2 separate regions of the Homo sapiens genome follow, and region 2 is linked to region 1. A link means that fine-mapping ties the variant in region 1 to the expression of a gene that starts in the linked region. Tissue or cell type: whole blood. Region 1 holds a variant in brackets; the other region holds the start of a gene. All regions are shown on one strand. Distances are between the middles of the regions.

Region 1 (2,688 bases):
GGTACTACGGCAGATACAACTTGAATTCAGAGAAATTGGCTCAGTAAAATCAATTTAATGTGTGCAGTATAGGAAATATTATGTTGAGGATAGCCTGAACATTCCAGCCCCTAATATGTCTAATAATTTCAGGGCTAGAAAAAGAAAACAGATGCAAAAATCCGCCTGAACCCTAAACTCAATTTGGAGAATTTAAGAGGAAAGCAGGAGTGAAATGCTCATCTCCAGCTGACATACTCCTTGTTTTCAAATACGGAAGATCTACCCTGCTATTAAATAGAGCATTCTTTACTATGCAGATTATGAGAAGAGGAATGGAAGTATCTCCCCAAGATAGCGTGCTCCCTAATTCTAACTCCATGTGATACTTCATGTTGAAAATCTTGCTATTGGTATAATGCTCTCACATAAGAATGAAAGTTTCAGCATCACAGAAATACAACAGACAGTTTCCTTTGTCACATCACTAAGCCATTCCTTGAGTTTGTAGTTGAATCTTGAAAATTTTTCTTTCGCAGTGAATGGCACCAGTGGAATTTTCTCCAACACCAAAGAGAGCCATAAACCTAGCACTTGTCACAAAATCTCAAATCTGTCTACCATTAGACTAGATCTCTAGAGATTAGCCAAAGAATCACAAGAAGAGAGGAAGAACAATAATAATAACTTGACTTAGTAAAATTTTAAAGAACCAGAAAAAATAATTGGGAGAAAAAAAAATGCCTGTGCTATTCCTGATACAGAACAATCACACAAAAGTAGATTTTGAAAACAGCTGGTATTCTTTTATACAGAAGAAAATAAAGCATAGTAGCTGCAAAACAAAAACTGAACCAATTAAACCTTGTTAAAGAAAAATCTAAGTCATCAATGAAAATAACTAAGTAGTGAAAATCAATGACTCGAACGACCACTCAATGAAACAGGAAATAAAATTAAGCAACATGCAAAATGGAGAGAAGATCATTAATTTTCTGAGCTTAAAAAAAGAGGGAAAAATGGTAGACATGGAAGAATATCACCGTTTTTTAAATGCCTAATGAAACTACATTACTGGGCAATGATTACCAGCGCTAATCAACATCACACATTGAGATACCCAGAAATTGTATGCCTCATGAAGGAAGTACACAATACCAGCTATGGAGAATTCTTGTTGAAAACAAAGTTCACTCTGATTGAACCTATTAGTCTGTTCTTATGCTGCTAACAAAGGCATACCTTAGACTGGGTAACATAAACAAAAGAGGTTTAATTGACTCACAGTTCAGCATGGCTGGGGAGGCCTTAGGAAACTTACAATCACGGTGGAAGGGGAAGCAAACATGTCCTTCACATGACAACAGGAAGGAGAAGTGAAGGGGAACTGTCCTTTAGAAAACCATCAGATCTTATGAAATGTATTCGCTATCACAAGAAGACCA[T/A]GGGAAAAAGCCACCCCCATGAATCACTTACCTCCCACTGGGTCCCTTCTACAACACATGGGGCTTATGGGAGCTACATTTCAAGATGAGATTTGGGTGGGAACACAGCCAAACCATATTATTCATCCCTTGGCTCCTCCCATATCTCATGTCTTCACATTTCAAAACCAATCATGCCTTCTCAGCAATCTCTCAAAGTCTTAACTCATTTCAGCATTTACTCAAAAGCCCACAGTCCAAAGTCTTATCTGGTACAAGGCAAGTCCCTTCCACATATGAACCTGTAAGATAAAAAATTTAAAAAAAGTTGGTTACTTCCTAGATACAATGGGGGCTGGACATTGGGTAAATACACCAGTTCCAAATGGGAAAAATTGGTCAAAACCAAGGGACTACAGGCCCCATGCAAGTCCAAAATCCAATAGGGCAGTCATTAAACTTTAAAGTTCCAAAATGAAATCCTTTGACTCCATGTCTCACATCCAAGTCAAGCAGACACAAGAAATGAGTTCCCAGGGCCTTGGACAGCTCCATCCTGTGGCTTTACAGGGTACAGCCCCCTGTCCAGACTGCATTCACAGGCTGGTGTTGAGTGTCTGCAGCTTTTCCAGGTACACGGTACAAGCTGTCAGTGGATCTACCATTCCGGGGTCTGGAGGACAATGGTCCTCTTCTCACACCTCTTCTAGGCAGGGCCCCAGTGGGGACTCTGTGTGGGGGGCTCCAACCTCACATTTCCCTGCTGTACCACCCTATCAGAGGTTCTCCTTTAGGGCTCTGACCCTCCAGCACACCTCTGCCTGGACAACCAGGTGTTTCCATACATCCTCTGAAATCTAGGCAAAGGTTCCCAAACCTTAATTCTTGTCTTCTATGCACCTGCAGGACCAATACCACATGGAAGCTGCCAAGGCTTGGGGCTTTCACCCTCTGAAGCAAAGGCCTAAGCTGTACATTGGCCCCTTTTAGCCATGGCTGGGGTGGATGGAATGCAGGTCACCAAGTCCCAAGGCTGCACACAGCAGGGGAGCCCTGGACCTAGCCCAGGAGACCATTTTTTCACCCTAGGGATCTGGGCCTGTGATGGGACGGGCTGCTGTGAAGGTCTCTGACATGCCCTGGAGACATTTTCCCCGGTGTCTTGGCAATTCGCATTTGACTCCTCATTGCTTATGCAAATTTCTGCTGCTGGCCAAAATATCCCCCCAGAAAATCATTTTTTGTTTTCCACTGCATTGTCAAGTTGCAAATTTTTCAAACTTTT
Region 2 (2,688 bases), 540 kb after region 1:
AAGCTGCTTCCTCGGTAAATATTTCCAAACTGATTAGAAAGTTCATGGCCCCGCGATGAAGTCGAGATCTCAAATACTGGTAATTATTTTATTATTTCGTACATTACTAACATTAGAGAAACCTTTCGGCTCGCTTTCTAGCGCTCCAACCTCTCAGGGTGAAAACCGCGACTTCTGGGCGTGCAGGAAAAGCACGCTGGAATCGAGTGCTGCAGACATCCTGGACCGTGGTTTTTACGCGTGAGTAACGGAGGAGCGCACCGACCGGTGGAAGAGAGAAGTGGCTAACGCGTGTCCAAAAGGGGGAAAAGTCACAAGAGCAACTATTAGGGTCGCGCTCCTATTGGTCAGAGGAAAGATCCCGACTTTAGAAGGACTTTCCTGCTGGCTGGCTCGCAGCGTCCCCGGAGAGCAAGCGAGCGCGCCGCAGCGGGAGACTAGGTTCTCTCCGAGCGTCCTCCGCAGAGGCGCCGCGAGAGGAGCAGGGAGCCGCAGCTCGCCGTGTTGTCTTCATTTCGTGCAATAAAGAATTGTCATTAGGTTTGCGTATGGCATGTGCTATTACCCCACCGTAAAACTAAAATTAGCAAAATGTCAGGAATGGAAAGATTGATTCACCAAGATGCAATTATCATTTAAAAGTGCTTGATTGAGGTACTGATGTTCAGTGATTTATTCTGCATACCATATACATAATTAAAGTAGTGTAGTGGAGTAATTTATCAATCTAGTTGAGACTGGAGGGGTGAGGAGGGAGCTGCTGTATGTTTGTTTTATTAAAATGCTCCGAGGTCTAGTCCCGCCCCCCTTTTGCAAGAGTGAAACTGATGATTTCTCCAGCTCGCGAGGAAAGAGTCAACGGTTTGGGATTGTGGGGGAGAGAGAGACGGAGAGAAAAAGGCAGCGCGAAGCAAAGGCAAGGACAAAATTAAATAAAGGGGGAAAAAAGGAGGCAAAAGACATTTCATCGGACGTGCTGCTTAGAACCCCAACCATTCGTGCTCCGTCTTCCCTACCACCCCCGCCTCCCCTCCCAGTATCCTTCAATCCCCCCCGCCCCCACCACCCCCAGTCTTTTTTACGCGATGTTTCAAACGCTGTGAGCTGTTCTCCTTTTCCCATTCGTCTTCTGTCACTTCCTTCCTGGACGCAGTTTTCTGGACGAGTCTGGTTACTTTTAATCCGACCGGCCGCTGAGAGCCACTTTCTCCTCCTCCTCCTCCTCCTCCTTCTCTTCCTCCTCCTTCTTCCTCCTCCTCCTCCTCTTCCGAGCGGCCTCGGCGCGCGCGAATGCGCGGCCCCGCGCCCCCCCCCTCGCGCGCGCTCCCCTCGCGCGCGCGCACACACGCACACATCGTCTCCAGCTCTCTGCTCGCTCTGCTCGCAGTCACAGACACTTGAGCACACGCGTACACCCAGACATCTTCGGGCTGCTATTGGATTGACTTTGAAGGTTCTGTGTGGGTCGCCGTGGCTGCATGTTTGAATCAGGTGGAGAAGCACTTCAACGCTGGACGAAGTAAAGATTATTGTTGTTATTTTTTTTTTCTCTCTCTCTCTCTCTTAAGAAAGGAAAATATCCCAAGGACTAATCTGATCGGGTCTTCCTTCATGTAAGTACCCCTGATATTTCTCGAGGAAATAGAAAACCCGGGTATTGTCTCTAAAATCTGCATCAATATATTCCACGGCACTGTGTCTATCTATCCCTGTGCCTTTTTTGAAGGCTGAAGTTGAGGCTCGTTGTGCATTCTTTTTCGTTAGATTCCATGATTTCCTTGTTTGTTGCTAAAAGTAACTTTTTAGATAGTCGTATCCGTTTGCCATCAGCTATTGAAATCACTCCTGACTCGTTCCTGTCACACCAGTGTATTTAAAGTTTCATGAAGTTAGTTCACGTCATTAGCATGTTTGATATGGTGGAGCGTGTGGAGCCTGGTGGATTTTAATATTTCACAGCATGTTCTGTGACCTTGAAGTAGACGCCTTAAGATTTAGCAGTTAGTTCACTGTGGAAAGATGCTCCCATGAGTCCCCCCAAAGACACTGATTTGCCCTGGGTTATGCTTCTGAGCCACTAATTCTTGGGATTAGTTTGACCTAAAGCATGGCTGTCTGTCAGAGTATACCTTTGTGCATTTCCTTCCCTCACCAAAGTGCCGGCTTGACAGAGGGCTTCTTAATTGGTGTGGACAAAAAGTAATATCCCTGCCATAGTAGTCTACACATTTCACAATTCACGTTCGATTTCAGCATATGGATTGCTGTTCAGGTCAAGTCAAATACATAGCTGTTTAAAAGCAAGCAAGGTTAAGTCACTTAAATTGCCTTCTCTTTGGACTTGGAATGAAAGTTACCAAACTCGATGATAAAGTTTGTCACAAAGGAAGTATATATAGATGTGGCACATTGTTTATTTTATTATTAAATATTGTGGAAGTATTTAAATTTAATGCTAATGTTACCTTCCTTCCCTGAACATGGCTATTGCTTTTTAAAGGAAATTTTATATCTGAATCACTTCTGACTATTCTAAGTCCAGTAGTTATCATTCTTTGGGGAGAGCCTTTTTTTGTCACATTTTAGGAATGCGTGTCTTTTGTATAAAATACTTTATATGTAAATGCTGACAGTAGACTAAGTAGAATTGGGCTCTCTGCCAGTTCCTTAACCGGTCCTCAGTGGAGA

The links. PIP is the estimated chance that this variant, and not a neighbour inherited with it, causes the effect.
Region 2: it holds the start of MEF2C, and the variant in region 1 is fine-mapped to the expression of MEF2C in whole blood (TOPMed, PIP 0.94).

The regions. Positions count from the first base shown.
Region 1 is chr5:89,417,469-89,420,156 of GRCh38, reverse strand. The region is part of intron 8 of MEF2C-AS1 (MEF2C antisense RNA 1); the gene reads right to left. Among named protein-coding and RNA genes, the nearest start is that of LINC02161, 160 kb to the left of the region's middle. The variant T/A (reference allele first, on the strand shown) is at 1,425.
Region 2 is chr5:88,881,880-88,884,567 of GRCh38, reverse strand. MEF2C (myocyte enhancer factor 2C) reads left to right here and starts at 1,384. Exons shown (of 11, transcript NM_002397.5): 1 at 1,384-1,613. MEF2C-AS1 (MEF2C antisense RNA 1) reads right to left here and starts at 1,238. Exons shown (of 10, transcript NR_136219.1): 1 at 1,083-1,238. RefSeq lists an enhancer at 277-326.